Linked DNA regions of Homo sapiens: region 2 is linked to region 1. Evidence: fine-mapped expression QTL. Tissue or cell type: T cells. Region 1 holds a variant in brackets; the other region holds the start of a gene. All regions are shown on one strand. Distances are between the middles of the regions.

The links. PIP is the estimated chance that this variant, and not a neighbour inherited with it, causes the effect.
Region 2: KLHDC4 starts here. The variant in region 1 is fine-mapped to the expression of KLHDC4 in T cells (TOPMed, PIP 0.97).

The regions. Positions count from the first base shown.
Region 1 is chr16:87,790,325-87,798,440 of GRCh38, forward strand. No RefSeq gene overlaps it. Among named protein-coding and RNA genes, the nearest start is that of KLHDC4, 28 kb to the left of the region's middle. RefSeq lists an enhancer at 1-825. The variant C/T (reference allele first, on the strand shown) is at 4,187.
Region 2 is chr16:87,760,992-87,769,107 of GRCh38, forward strand. It overlaps KLHDC4 (kelch domain containing 4), which reads right to left and starts at 4,995. Exons shown (of 12, transcript NM_017566.4): 1 at 4,801-4,995; 2 at 958-1,049. The coding sequence starts at 4,899. It overlaps LOC105371399 (a long non-coding RNA gene), which reads left to right and starts at 5,050. Exons shown (of 3, transcript XR_933871.3): 1 at 5,050-5,350. It overlaps LOC102724467 (a long non-coding RNA gene), which reads right to left. Exons shown (of 4, transcript NR_120309.1): 4 at 5,340-5,433. RefSeq lists enhancers at 1,381-1,450, 4,283-4,907, 4,891-4,950, 5,031-5,090.

The sequences.
Region 1 (8,116 bases):
TCCTGTAATAACCTTCCCCCAAGGCCTCTCCTCTGCAGCACCCCGCTGGACACCTGAGGTCCTCTCCCTGTACAAAGAAAACCCAAACCCACTGCTTCTCTTTGGCCATTAGCTTTTGGCCTCTTCAAGCTGCTCTTTGGGGTCTTCACGGTCTCTGGTGGGATTCTCTCTGCGAATTAGGTTTGCATTAAGTTTTCTATCTTTATTACGCAGAGAAGACTGGCTTCACGGGCTTTCCCCCTACTTGGCTAGCAGACACATCTTTTCAGCCCTAGGCAAAAGAATCCCGTGCTCGAATTATCCAGAGATAATGTACGTTTGCTGTAATTAACAACCCACCAGAGCCCTGGGGCGCTCCCTACAGACATGGGTCTGGTGTGGCAAATGTGCAAGGGAACTGGCTCTGCCCGGCCCTCCCAGGCAGCTCTCCCATTTGTCTCAGTATCATCGCCTTCCCAGCTCCCTGGGGCTCCCCCTCCCAGAGAGGAGCAGCCCAGGCCTGACTGCCAAGACACAGGGCATCATTTACCCACTATGGTTAGAAAGCTTGCCCAAGCAATGGCACCAAGCCAATAAATATTATTCTCTGCTATCAACAGCCAAGGCCACACTCTGATTTGTTAGTGGTGGGTTAAATAAACAAGACTTCTGGCTGGGCGCGGTGGCTCATGCCTGTGATCCCAGCACTTTGGGAGTGGATCACAAGGCCAGGAGATCGAGACCATCCTGGCTAACACAGTGAAACCCCATCTCTACTAAAAAAAAATACAAAAAATTAGCCGCTCGTGGTGGCATGCCACTCTGTAGACCCAGCTACTCGGGAGGCTGAAGCAGGAGAATAGTTTGAACCCAAGAGGCGGAGGCTACGGTGAGCCAAGATCGCCCCACTGCACTCCAGCCTCGGCGACAGAGTGAGACACCAACTCAATAAATAAAAAATAAAATAAACAAGACTTCCAGACCACGGGTGGAGAAGATCCAGCCAGGGAGCTGGGCACAACTCCCCGTTTCACTGTGCGGTTTCATTTCAGTTGGAAAGAACTTCATCTGTTGAAGTGCACAGACAGCATTCAGAGGCTAGAGACGCCGGCATCGGCACAGCACACAGTGCCCTCTGTTCCCCTGGCCCAGGCCAAGAGCTCTTTGTGTGTCTGAGTGACTGGTCAGCACTGGGCAACAAACCCACGCCGGGAGACGGACAGCGAGCCGCCTCAACCCACCAGCCTCTGGGGAGCCTCTCATCTCGCAAGCACCTGCGGAGGCCCGCCCGGCGCCAGACCAGTCCAGGCACCCAGAGGCCTCTGCTCTCCTGGAGCTCATGACAAGTAAACAAATACACAAGATGGTTTGGGATCCCGATGAATAAGTTAAGCAGGGCAACCCAACAGGGAGGACAGGGCTCCCGCATGTGACGGACCCAGGAGGGAGCGACCCCCCGTGTTGACATGGGGGGAAAGGCGGGAAGTCAGAGAGGCCGGGAGGTCAGAGAGGCCAGGAGGTCAGAGAGGCCAGGCCCCTTCACACGGGGTGGGCGGGGGGGGGGGGGATTTGCTCCCTCTGGAGGCCAAAGAGGAGGGTCCTTTCCACCTCTTCCAGCTTCTGGGGGCGGCTGGCTTCCTGGGCTTGTGGCGTGTCTGTCACTCCAGTCTCTGCCTCTGCCTTCACGTGGCCTCAGTGCATGTCCTCACATGGCCTTCTTATAAAGATACCTGTCATCGCATTTAGGACCCACCCTAATCCAGCACGACCTCATCTTAACTAATGGCACATGCAAAGACCCTGATTCCAAATCCGGTTATGTTCTGGGGATCCGGTGAACACAAATTTCGGTGCTTTGCTCAGTTTCTATGGAGTCTTGTGTATAGGAAGGGACAGGAGAAGAACCAAATTCTCATCTGAGGCAGATTTTTATTCCTCATTGCAAAATTTAAACATGAAACCAATTAAAACCTTTTTGGGGAGGCCTCTGCTCAATCAGTCAACCAAGGACTATTTACCAAGCAGCTGGTCTTGGGCTCAGCTCTGCAGTCAGCACTGTGGTACCTGACACGGATTGGCAGCTTGCTCTCAGAACATTTCCAGGCTAACCAAGAGGACGAGCACAACGAGCTATTTTTCAAGGAATAGATCAGTTAAGATATAACCCACCTACCGTACGATTTGCCCATTTAGAGTGCGCAATTCAGTGGCCGTTAGTACAATGACAGAGTTATGCAGCTATTACCCCAATCAATATTAAAACATTCTCTTTTCTTTTTTTTTTTTTTTCAGATGGAGTCTCACTCTGTCGCCCAGGCTGGAGTACAGTGACACGATCTCAGCTCACTGCAACCTCTGCCTCCTGGGTTCAAGTGATTCTCCTGCCTCAGCCTCCTGAGTAGCTGGGATTACAGGTGCGTGCCATCACGCCCGGCTAATTTTTGTATTTTTAGTAGAGACAGGGTTTCACCATGTTGGGCAGGCTGGTCTCAAACTCCAGACTTCGGGTGATCCGCCTGCCTAGGCCTCCCAATGCTGGGATTACGGGCGTGAGCCACCACGCCCGGCCAAACGTTTTCTTTTTACTTTTTTTTTTTTTTTTTTTTAGGACAGGGTCTGGCTTTTTTTTTTTGAGATGCAGCCACAAGGCCAGGCTGGAGTGCAGCGGTGCAATCTTGGCTCACTGAAACCTCTGCCTCCCGGGCTCAGGTGATCCTCCCACCTCAGCCTCCTGAGTAGCTCAGGCCACAGACACATGCCACCGTGCACAGCTGATTTTATTATTATTTATGTATTTATTTATTTAATTGAGATGGGGGTCTTGCTATGTTGCCCAGGCTGGTCTTGAACTCCTGAGCTCAAGCAATCCACCCGCCTCAGCCTCCCAAAGTGCTGGGATGACAGGCGTGAGCCATGTCACCTGCCCCAGTTAACTTTTGTGTATATTTGGTAGAGATGAGGTTTTACCATGGTGCCTACACTGGTCTTGGGCTGAGCTCAAGCAATCCACCCACCTCGGCTTCCCAAAGTACAGAGGTGAGGCACCATGCCCAGCATAACTTTTCCTTTTTTAATTTATTGAAAATACATAGGACTGTATAAAGCCAAAATTACCACATCACCCTGGGGTTTGTAATGTATGTAGGTGCAATATGCAAGACAACAGCAGCATGAAGCATGGGGGGTTGGGTAAATATGGTCACAAGGCTTCTATGTTTTATGTGACGTTTATATTTCTAATACTAACTCTGGGCTGGGCGCGGTGGCTCACGCCTGTAATCCCAGCACTTTGGGAGGTGGATCACCTGGGGTCGAGAGTTCGAGACCAACCTGACCAACATGGAGAAACCCCGTCTCTACTAAAAATACAAAATTAGCCAGGTACGGTGGTAGATGCCTGTAATCCCAGCTATTTGGGAAGCTGAGGCAGGAGGATCGCTTGAACCCAGGAGGTGGAGATTGTGATGAGCCGAGATCGCGCCACTGCACTCCAGCCTGGGCAACAAGAGCGAGACTCCATCTCAAACAAACAAAAAACAAAACAAAACAAAACAAAACACTCTGAGTAGACTGTGAAAAACTAAGGGTAGATGTTGCAATCCCTAGAGCAAGGAGAAGGAATAGCTAAAAAGCCATAGTTCTTGCTTCATAATGCTAATACTTGGGGTGGGCATGGTGACTCATGCCTGTAATCCCGGCATTTTGAGAGGCCGAGGCAGGTGGATGACTTGAGTTCAGGAATTTGAGACCAGCCGGGCATGGTGGCGCATGCTTGTAATCCCAGCTACTCAGGAGGCTGAGACAGAAGAATCGTTTGAACCTGGGAGGCGGAGGTTGCCGTGAGCTGAGATTGTGAATTGCACTCCAGCCTGGGCAACAGAGCAAGACTCCGTCTCAAAAAAAAAAAAAAGCTAATACTCAGAATAGAAATTCCAACTTGACCACTTAGTGGTGTGATCAGAGGCGGGTCTCTCAGCCTCTCTGAACTTCATCTGTCCTGGGAATTGAACAATCTAAGCTGTTTATCCCCCAGGGTGTCCCAGAGGATGAAATGAGGCAATATCAACTGTGCACTGTGTTTTGTAACCTGAGAAGCATTGTTAGCCTGCAAAGGGTCCCTTCCATTTGACAGGATTCTCCTGTACCAGAGATGATGGTTTCCTCCCTATCCCCCAAGAAAACAGAGACTATCTCTGATTTCAGCAAA[C/T]AGCTGTGTCAAGGCCTCACATCCTTGGCATGCAGGCATGTCTCAGTCATTGGTGAGGACCTCTGATCCCACCTTCAGGTTCACGATCAAAGGGACTGTTCCCATTTCCTTGGGCAAGAAACCAGAGGCCCGGGACTTTGTACAATTTCCGAAGCAAATGTTATGCACACATACGCCTTCCCCAGCCCACAGGAGATACGCATTTCCGGAAGCTTTTGGTGATCGTGATCACACGTAGGCAGTTTCCAAAGCGTGAGGGGACCTGGTGGTGCAGGTGAGGTGGCCCGTCCCAGGTCCTACAAGGTCCTCTGGCACAGCTGGGATCCCTGCTAACTCGGCGGAAGGGCTCTCTGCTCACCCTGCCACCTCGGTGCCCTGTGGACCCTGATCAGCGGTCTGAAGCCAACTGCCCTGGCATGACCTCCCTGTGGGGTTCCCTTCCCAGCCTGAACCCTTTGGGGTTCCACTGCTCACCAGGGGTGATGCTTCAGAAATCATACTAAACAGCACCTGCTTCAGAGGTCTAACCTACCCCTGGCCCAGCCCAGGTAGGAGTTCCCCAGTCTTCATGAGCTTGGGAGGGGTGGTCAGACACCAGGAGACTGTTGCCATTCCCTGCAGTGACACTCCAGAAACCAGGCAGCCGACGGTCCCAGAGGGGCGAGTCTAAAGGGAGGCACTGCCAGGTGGGGTATCCCAGGCTGCAGGACACCCACGGAGAGGCTGAGGGTTCCGGCCAGAGAAAGGAATAGAGCAGAGCCCTCTGATTGCTCCTTCCTACAAAGTCTAGGTGGACGTCCTCAACAGCAGGTCGCTTTGCTGAGGGGACTGTCTTCAAGGGGAAGCAGCCAGAGAAATCTACCACGACCTAAACCAGCCCTCACACTTAGTCTTCGGCACATGCCAAAGGTGTTCCCTGCGTTAGTCTCCACTGCTGCCGCGCTTCCCTCCCAGCAAGCTCAAGAAAAGCCTGGCCCTGTGTGTATCAACCGCATGGTCCCCCTTTGATCTCTCTGGCCCAGCTGCCGGGCCCTGGCTCGCCACTGGGGAGGCCCTCAGTCCTCTCGCATTGATCCTTCCAGTGAGGCCACGGGAAAGCCTTTGGCACTGGGTGCTGTAGGGCACATGAGCTGGGGTCAGAGCCTTGGACCACCAACTGCAAGGGGTGCTGTGGAGGGCTCTCTGGAGACCCCCACAGCACTGAGGCTCTCGTCCCCCGACCAGGAGTTTCTCCACAAATTGTTCTCCAGGAACTGCCCTTGGCTAAAGCAATGTCACGTCCCAGGCCATGGTCCCTCCCTGGTGGCCCATGTGGAATCACTCGTCAGTGTCATATGAGAAGAATTGTATGCTCAGACCCTGTAACCCAAGGCAGCTGCCTGCTTGCCAGTGTTGTCTCAGAGCCTGTTTGTTGCAGCAACAAAAAGCACAGGCATCTCGGGGGCTTGAAAACTCAGGCTTCTTTCTCGTGTACATCAAGTCCGCTGGGGGTCCAGGAGGTTCCCCAGGGTAGCTGCTGCCAGGGGAGGGCCCACACATGACCCACGCCAACCCCTGCTTGCCCAGCCATCATGCAGAGGACAGAGGAAGGCGAACCCCAGCAAATAAGGGCTTCCACCAAGAAGCGACACCCATTGCCTCCACTCTGAGCCCACTGGCCTTCCCGAAGTCTAAGACTAGAATTCCTGCCTGTGCATAAAGAACTGGGGATTGGTGAACCGCCATCAGATCTGCCAGATGTTTCAGGAAAGTGAACATTTGTTTACATCTGTGTGGATTGGGCTACCTCCTTCTAGACAGAGCCCGGTCCCCTCAGCCTCACTGCCCTCTTTTTATTTTATTTTATTTTTTTGAGACGGAGTTTCACTCTTTTTTTTTTTTTTTTTTTTTTTGAGACGGAGTCTCGCTCTATCACCCAGGCTGGAGTACAGTAGCACGATCTTCGCTCACTGCAAGCTCCGCCTCCCGGGTTCACACCGTTCTCCTGCCTCAGCCTCCCGAGTAGCTGTGACTACAGGTGCCCGCCACCCTGCCTGGCTAATTTTTCGTATTTTTAGTACAGACGGGGTATCATCGTGTTAGCCAGGATGGTCCCGATCTCCTGACCTCGTGATCCACCTGCCTCAGCCTCCCAAAGTGCTGGGATTACAGGTGTGAGCCACCGCGCCCGGCTGAGATGGAGTTTCACTCTTCTCACCCAGGCTGGAGTGCAATGGCACAATCTCTGCTCACTGCAACCTCCACCTCGCAGGTTCAAGCGATTCTCCTGCCTCAGCCTCCTAAGTAGCTGGGTTTGCAGGCACCCGCCACCCACGCCAGGCTAATTTTTGTATTTTTAGTAGACATGGGGTTTCACCATATTATTGCTCTTTTTATAACAGATATTTTGAATGCCTCCTTTCTACCCTGAAATGAAATCCACAGAAACTATAACTTGCCAATACACGGAATTTAAAAAAATCTACACGATACATATTGGATCATACAAGCATGAGAGATAAACTGAAGCAGAAAGGAAGTATGAAAATAAAAACAATTGGCAATAAAGCAATATGAATTTCAAGATGTAAATTCTCAGGCACCGCTATGCTAGAAGACATAAAACACGAATGCTGTACTCACATGTAAATTTGCTGTCAACGCAGCAGGGACAAATGTCAGCAGCATCAGGAGCACTGTGGCTCAAATGCCAGGAGGGGATTTACTAAAATTGTGAGCCTCTCCTGGTTCCAGTTAGAACCCAGCACCTTCATCTGCATGGTAGTTTCATCTCTACAGATTTCAGAACTTATCAAAACTGGCCAAAGTGGCTGAGCGTGGTGGCTCATGCCTGTAATCCCAGCACTTTGGGAGGCCAAGACGGGTGGATCACTTGAGGTCAGGAGTTCAAGACCAGTCTGGCCAACGTGGTGAAACCCCGTCTTTACTAAAAATACAAAAATTAGCTGGGCGTGGTGGCAGGTGCCTGGAATCCCAGTGACTCAGGAGGCTGAGGCAGGAGAATCACTTGAACCAGGGAGGCGGAGGTTGCAGTGAGCCAAGATCATGCCACTGCACTCCAGCCTGGGCGACACAGGGAGACTCTGCCTCAAAAAAAAAAAACAAAAAAAAAAAACTGGACAGACCCACTTTGTGTTGATTGGCAAAAAATAATAACAATGTTAGGTTTTAGGATCAGATAGTTATAAATAGGTTTTTCACCTTTGAAAACTCATACAGGACAATCCTTCATTGTTTAGGACCTTTTTTCACATCACAGAACATTTAGCCTCCTTTCTCTTACTCCACATCCTAAGAAGGCTGCAAACACCTCCCACAAACTTCCAAAATGCCTCCTAGGGAGGGTACCACATCCAATAAGAAAACCTCTATAGGCTGGGTGCACTGGCTCATGCCTGTAATCCCAGCACTTTGGGAGGCCGAGGTGGGTAGATCGTTCGAGCCCAGGAGTTTGAGACCAGCCTGAGCAACATGGTGAAACCTCATCTCTACAAAAAAAAATACAAAACTTAGCCGGGTGTGTTGGTGCACACTTGTGATCCCAACTACTTGAGAGGCTGAGGTGGGAGGATCACCTGAGCCGGGGAGTTCAAGCCTGAAGTGAGCCATGATCACACCACTGCACTCCAGCCTGGATGACAAAGCAAGACCCTGCCTCAATCAATCAATCAATCAATCAATCAATACTTTTTAAAAAAGAAAGAAAACCTCCATCCAAGATGGTATTAGCTGTAGTGTTTTCTAGGCCACCAAAGAAGTGGAAAACATAGAAGGACTTGAGGAGTAGCGTTAGTGACACATTTCAGTGCTAGAGATTCTATACAATAAAGATAAGTGAAAGGCTGGGCACGGTGGCTCACGCCTGTAATCCCAGCACTCCAGGAGGCCGGGCATGGTGGCTCACGCCTGTAATCCCAGCACTTTGAGAGG
Region 2 (8,116 bases), 29 kb before region 1:
CACTGTACTCCAGCCTGGATGACAGAGTGAGACTCCATCTCAAAAAGAAAAAAAAAAGTACATTTACCACATGTAACTTACATTTGGCCCTGAGGGCAACATGCAAACTAAAGGGAAAAAGAAAACTAAAATCCTAATGGACATGAAGTGAAAACCAGGAAGGACACTGGCCTTTGGGAGTGGCTCCAACACCACTCACTCTGCTCAGGGGCTGATCACCGTGCTCCTCCCACCTCTGGGCAGGTGATGATAACCCTGCCTCTGAGGCCGGTGGGTGGGACTCGGGCACCAGAGCCATCACATGCGCCTCATTAATGCAAACGCAGCACAATCGTGACCCTCCACTCCCGATGGGCTGAACCCCGGCTTCCACTAGGGCCTGCAGCAGCTTTATTAAAAGGGTAAATCCTGCAAGGTTAATCTCCTACTGAGGGAAATAAACCATTTCTCATTCCAGCTCATCCCACACGTGTATGAAATCCTACAGACTCGGAACGTTTTTACGTAATTTTCAAATCCATTTAAAATGGCTTATACTCAATTTATGTTTAACAAACTTTTCACATGAGAATTTGAAAGCATTACAAACACATCAAAAGGCCACAGTGATTTTCAGCTTTCTGCCTACAGTACGCACTTTTAAAATACCTTAAGAACCAAAGAAAAGCTCACTGGGGCAAAACTTTCATCCCCACGTCACGACCAGTGGAGGAGCTTTCAAAGTTGGCACCGGAGCCCAGAGGCAGCAGCTGTGCTGTAGGCCCTGCTCCCAGGTTCCATGACAGTAAAGCTTACAGCCTCATTCCAGTTCTTCAGCAGAAAGTGACCAAGAACAGGTTTTAATAATGAAAATGTCCCAAGTGCCTGGTCATTTACGAAACCTGGTGCTATTTAAAGCAGTTTTTCAATGTATAGAAGAAAAGGAAACATACAATATGAAAAATGCTACTTGCTCACCTTGGTGAGGGTGGGGGGCACGGAAGTTCCACAGTCTGAGTCCTCTTGGCATCGAGTGTCTGGAAATGGGCTATGAGCGCTTCCAGGTCTTCCTAGGGCAAGCAAGCAGGCACACGTGAGACTTATTCCCAGGACCCGCCGCGGAGCCACAGCCCGCTCAGCTTTCCTCCAATCAGTGTGATTCGACTGGGCTCAGTCACATCTGTGAATTGCAACATACTGTGCCTGTTTGAAATGCAGAGTTTGACACATTCGAAAGTAACCAGAGCTTGACCTCAAAGGCAGTCTGCTTAAAGGGTAGATGTGTGCACCAAGTATTATCTCCACACCCTTAACGCTCCCTCTGCAAGACCTTCCACTTAGACAAGCCCGTTGTGACTTCACTGCAGACACTCTCAGCACCTCTCATAACCCAGACTCGAGCCGTCGCACCTGCCAGCCTTCCTGTCTGCAGAGCAGTGTCTGACAAGAACTTCCACTTAGACAAGCCCATCGTGACTTCACTGCAGACACCCTCAGCACCTCTCAGAGCCCAGGCCTGGGCCGTCACGCCTGCCTGCCTTCCTGTCTGCTGAGCAGTGTCTGATATATTTCTCTTGCTTATTTGTTTCCTCCACCCCAACAAAATAATAAAATATGAGCTCCACCAGAGCAAGACTTGTGTCTAGTTAAAACACTGCCTGCACAGCAAGAGCTCAGCAAATACCAGCTGCAGTCTATCCAAGTAAGAAGGTCTCAACTTTTACTACCATCGAGAGTGACTCAAGGTACTGATGTGCCAGCACAGAGGGCAGCACTGGAACCCAGTGTTCCCGCCTCAGTCCCAGTGCCCATTTCCCAACATTTACGAGACACTCCCATGCACACCCGAGCCTGGCATTTCAAGTTCCTTCTAGCCTTCAGTGTCCTGCTTGCAACTACACACACCTGCAGACCATCTTCCCTCCCCCACACCCACCTCTCCAACCTCACCTCCCACCTGGCCTCACTCTCCAAGATACACCAGCGTCCTCTCCGTTCCTTCAATGAAAACGCCAGGTTCCCTCAGCCTGCCACGCCCCACCTCGTGCTTCCTTCAGTCTACCTCTCATCTCAGGGTGAATGTCAGCAGGGTACACTGCTTAGTATTCTAAACGATGCAATATTTAAAACACACAAGTTAACAGAACTTTATCCAAGACATTCCTGTATACGGTTCCCAGGGTAAGGAATAAAGTGTCACCCACATGTACCCACCCACACATTCCCTCAAGTAACCACTATCTGGAACTCGATGCTTATTAGTCTCACGCTTTTCTTCAATCTTTTATTACACATGTGTATCCCTAAGCAACATATAGTATTGTTTTACATTTTTAAATGTCATTAAATGGACTGGGCACAGTGGCTCACGCCTGTAATCCCCGAACTTTGGGAGGCCGAGGCAGGTGGATAATTTGAGGTCAGGAGTTCGAGACCAGCCTGACCAACACGGTGAAACCCCGTCTCTACTAAAAAATACAAAAATTAGCCGGCCACAGTGGCGCACACCTGTAGTCCCAAACTACTCGGGAGGCTGAGGCAGGAGAATTGCTTGAGCCTGGGAGGCAGAGGTTGCAATGAGCTGAGATCATGCCACTGCGACACTTGCTCTGGGTGACAGAGCAGGACTCCATCTCAAAAAAAATAAAAAATAAAATGTCATTAAATGGTATCATACTGTATATTCTTTCAACTTGCTTTTTTTGCTCAACGAGGTTAAACAAACAGTTCAAATACTAACGTCTATGTACCGCGAAAGCTTTGCTGCTGCTACTTAGAGCGGTCTTTGACCTTGGCTGAACCTCATCATCATTGGGTGACTGAAGGAGAGCAAGGTGGTAGGGTCTGGGTGACGCCAGTGGCCTAGCCAGTGACAGCCTCTCCAAAGTGACAATAAGCTGAATGCTGAAAAGACGACTCAGACGGAGTATGGTTGGGGTATAGGTAAGACCACAGACACAACTTGCCATGTTTGAGACACTAAAAGACACTGTGGCTGGAGTGAGCCCAGGGAGACAGCTGGAAAGACAGGCAGAGGCCAGGACTAAGTGAAGGTGCGAACCAGGTGACCTGATACATGAGTTCTGTGGGAGCAGAATTCCAAACTGTCCCCAATCCTTCCCCCAATAATTGCCAGGACTGTGAAAGAATGGGATACCACTCTTGTGATTAGGTTGTATTACAGACACAGCTGAATTTAAGAAAGAGATGATCCTCTGTGGGTCTAGCCTAATCAGACGCCCACTTATTTTAAAAGTTTGTTTTGAGGGTTCATTCAGATAACATACAAACCCCAGGCCTGACAGGCTCTCTCTCTTAAGGGAAGCTACTGTTACAATCACCTTAGTATTGGGTACTGGAGGGAGACATGGAGATGAGTAAAAATGACAGGTAACTGGCGGGGCAAGGTGGCTTACGGCTTGTAATCCCAGCACTTTGGGAGGCCGAGGCGAGCGCATCACCTGAGGTCAGGAGTCCCAGACCAGCCTGACCAAAACGGTGAAACCCGGTCTCTATTAAAAATACAAAATTAGCTGGGTGTGGTGGTGCATGCCTGTAATCTCAGCTACTTGGGAGGCTGAGGCAGGAGAACCACTTGAACCTGGGAGGCGGAGGTGCAGTGAGCTGAGATCGCACCATTGCACTCCACCCTGGGCAACAAGAGTGAAACTCCTTCAAAAAAAAAAAAAAAAAAAAAAAAAAAAAGCAGAAAGCAGCTAACAGCTGGTTACTGAGTGCTTACTTTCTGCCAAGCACCATTCTGAAGATACCACACAGATGAACTGACTTCCTGTGCCACAACCCTAGCCAGCAGGTCATGCCACTGCAGCCCAGCCTAGGTGACAGAGCAAGACTCTGTCAAAAAAAAAAAAAAAAAAAAGAAAGAGCCTAAGAGGAGTGTGAGGGAAAAGTCCAACTCCATTATTTAAGAGATGAGGACATGGAGAGATCAATGACTTAGGAAGAAAAGGGACAAAGGACTGTGGTCAAGAGCTCCTGATTCAGGACATCTGGTCACATCCCAGTTCCATACCACTTCATGGTTCACCTGTTGGTCTTCCTGTCAAATGGGAATACCAGTGCTACGGAACTGACCTGCTCGTGAGGAGTAAAGCCCAGGGAGCTGTGCCTGGCGCACGGCAGGCCATAAAACTGGCCCCGGTTAGGGAATCCATGAGCAGCAGCCGCAGAACACTCAACCCCAAGGTCAGGACGGATCCTCCTGCAGACCCCGGGCTGAGGACCAGAGGGAAGGAGACAACCGTGATGGCCGCCATCAGCTGCTACGGGATACCCCGTGGCTCCAGTGCCTTCTTCACTTAACCATCTGCTGCTCACTGCTCAGGGCTGCTGTGATGATTATTTGCCCTCTTTTGAAAGAAAAGTAAGGTTCAGAAAAGTTAAGAGTCTTACTCCCAGACCACACATCATGCAGAGGCAGCCCCCGGCTCAACCTCAGGTCTTCCTGTGCCAAACCCCTCCCTCTTCTCACCACCCAGCCTCCCTTCAGAGGGAGGGTGGAGGGAGAAGGGAGGAGGGGGAGGAAACGCAGAAAAACGCCCGTGACACCACACTAAGAAAAGCAAGCACGTTAAAGGGGGCAGCTCCGAGAAGCGGACAGACACACGTGGAGACTCAGGAGGGGGCGGGCCCCGTCTGGGCTGCCCGGACGCGGCGCCGGGGCAGTTCCTACGGCCTCCAGCTCTCCCGCAGGGCCGGCGCGGCTCCCACGGCCGACCCGTAACCCCGGGGGGCGCAGGGAGTCGGCCGAGGCTGCACGGCCGCGACGTCGGGCCGCTAAGCCCGGTCTGACCCGCTCACCTCCTCCTTCCGCGAGCGCTTAGACACCTTCTTCTCCATCTTGGCGGCCGTCTTCTCCGCGCCGCGGCCCTTCTTCTCCTTCTTGCCCTTCTTGCCCATCTTGCCGGGTCCCAAGCCGCGACGGGACACCAGGAAAGAAAACGGCCCGCGCTCTCCGCTCGGAAACAGGTGCTCGTGGGGCGGAGCTCGGCGCACAGAAATGGAGTCACTTCCGGCCCCGAGTTCGAGCCGCTTCCGGGTAGAGGTGCGGCTGGGCCCTTTACGAGGTTCGGTCTTGGAGCTCCGTCTTCGGCAGCGGGCTCGGGGGCCTCGGACTCTGCATAAGGCCCCGGAAAAGATGACCGGCCCCGGGCTGGGCGCGGTGGCTCATGCCTGTAACCCTGGAGCTTTGGGAGGCCTTGGCGGGCGGATCGCTTGAGTCCAGGAGTTCGAGATCAGCCTGGGCAACAAAGCGAGACACCACCCCCCACCCCCAGTCGCTACAGAAGAAAAAAAAAAAAATTAACCGGGCGTGGTGTCTCGCGCCCAGTGGTCCTAGCTCCTCGGGAAGGTGAGGCGGGAAGATCGCTTGAGTCAAGGAGTTCCAGGCAGCAATGCGCCCCTGCACCCCAACCTGGGCGACAGAGCGAGATCCTGTTTCAAAAAACAAAAAAGATGGCAGCCCCGGCCTGACATACCCCGGCCATGCTCGCCAATTCTCACGCCCTGTGCCCCCACCTAGCCTGTCCCCGTGTCCTAGGAGACGTGCCCTCTGAGTTTTATTTTTTATTTCTATTTTTTTGAGGCAGGGTCTTGCTCTGTCGCCCAGGCTGGAGTGCGGTAGCGCGATCTCGGCTCGCTGTAACCTCCGCCTCTGGAGTAGCTGGGACCACAGGAGCCCACCACGCCCGGCTCATTTTCTCTTGAGTTTTCCGGGGTGCACGTGCCCCCCGTTAAGGCACATTGCTTCGCCCTGGGTAGAACTAAGTGGGCGACTCTTGGGCTAGCCCCATTTTTTCCCCTCAGACCAAACAAATGAGTGCTTTTTTCCCAGAAAAAAAATTTCACACAGTTATAAGATTTTGCAGATCCTGAGTAAGACAGTCCCTGCCGGGCGCGGTGGCTCACGCCTGTAATCCCAGCACTTTGGGAGGCCGAGGTGAGTGGATCACGAGGTCAGGAGTTCGAGACCAGCCTAGCCAACATGGTGAAACCCCCGTCTCTACTAAAACTACAAAAATTAGCCAGGCGTGGTGGTGGGCACCTGTAATCCCAGCTACTTGGGAGGCTGAGGCAGGAGAATTGCTTGAACCCAGGGGGCAGAGGTTGCAATGAGCTGAGATCAAGCCACTTCACTCCAGCTTGGGCAAAAGAGCAAAATTCCATCTTAAAAAAAAAAAAAAATGGGGGGGCCCTTCCACCTTCCCATTTAAAATGTGCCAGACACTGTTAGGTACTAAGGGCATGTCCTCAAATGTCCTAACATGGAGGACTTTTGTTTCTTCATAGGTAGGCTAGAGCTAATGATAGCACCCTGAAAGGGTACTCAATTTGTGGAGCCTGAGAAATAAAGATAGGTAATATCCAAATGCCTGCTAGGAAATTGTACTCTAGGATTTGCCTCAAATTACGTAAGAAATGGCAAAATCATCTGCAGTGCATGGAATGTTATGATTTGAAAGAGCAGAGTAAAAATGCTTATCACTACTTAGAAGATGTCATCTTTGGATGGGTAATCAAGGAATAAGGCAAATTAAGGACAAGGACAAGCCAAAATTTGGCAAAGGGAAAGCATAAATCAGGAAATAATCTAGTTTATTACTTTGTGTGTGAGTCAGCCTTTAAAAGTTCTCTTAGGCCAGGCGTGGTGGTTCATTCCTGTAATCCCAGCACTTTGGGAGGCTGAAGCGGGCTGATCACGAGGTCAGGAGTTCAAGACCAGCCTGGCCAATATGGTGAAACCCTGTCTCCACTAAAAATACAAAAAAAAAAAAAAAAATTAGCCAGGTGTGGTGGCACCCACCTGTAGTCCCAACTATTCAGGAGGCTGAGGCAAAAGAATCATTTGAACCTAGGCGGCAGAGGTTGCAGTGAGCGGAGATTGCACCACTGCACTCCAGCCTGGGCGACAAAGCAAGACTCCATCTCAAAAAAAAAAAAAAAAAAAGATGTTATCTTAGATCCAGCCAGGTGTGATGGCTCACGCCTGTAATCCTAGCACTTTGAGAGGCAGAGGCAGGCAGATCACCTGAGGTCAGGAGTTTGAGACCAGCCTGATCAACATGGTGAAACCCCATCTCCACTAAAAATACAAAATTAGACAGGCATGGTGGTGCGCACCTGTAATCCCAGCTACTCGGGAGGCTGAGTCAGGAGAATGGCTTGAGCCTGGGAGACAGAGGTTGCAGTGAGCCGAGACTGAACCACTGCACTCCAGCCTGGGCAACAGAGCTAGACTCCGTCTCAAAAAAAAAAAAAAAAAGAAGAAGTTAACTCGGCCAGGCGTAGTGGCTCACATCTGTAATCCCAGCACTTTGGGAGGCCAAGGTGGGCAGATCACGAGGTCAGGAGTTCAAAACCAGCCTGGCCAACATGGTGAAACCCCGTCTCTACAAAAATACAAAAAAATTAGCCAGGTGTGGTGGTGTGCACCTTTAATCCCAGCTACTCAGGAGGCTGAGGTAGGAGAATTGCTTGAACCGGGAGGAAAGGTTGCGGTGAGCCCAGATCACGCCATTGCACTCCAGCCTGGGCAGCAAAAGCGAAACTCTGTCTCAAAAACAAAAAAAGTTACCTTAGATCCAATCAATGACTAGTCACTGAGCAGCTGAGGAGGAATGATTTTCCAACCCACTCCAAGCCTTATCCATAAACCTAGCTCTTTAAGAAGAAAAATGAAATTTGGGGAAATAATGAGAAGAAAAGATAGCACTGGTTGAAGACCACCATGGTCTCCAGCACTGCTTGTAGGAAACCTATGTGGTGGTAGAAAAAAAAAACCGGTTAGGAGCTGAGCAGAAAGGAGCTGGAGAATTTCACAGAAACCCAGCCTGGGCATCCAGGCATGTTTATCTTCCATGACGAACTACAAAAGGCTAAATCCTCACTATTGCCCTCGGGAAATAGTTCTGTCCCCTCTAGTGTACTATGACTTTAAGAACATACGTAATCCTTTAATATTTTTCTAAAAATCCTGGGTAAACCTGAGGCAATGCACTTGAAGCCAAAAGGCTCTTCATTCACAGCACATCTGGCTGCAGTACATTACAGTGGTGCCCACTTCAGGCCGGAGACAGGGAGAGCGTATGACCTATTGAAGATTTAGGAGGATCTGGTG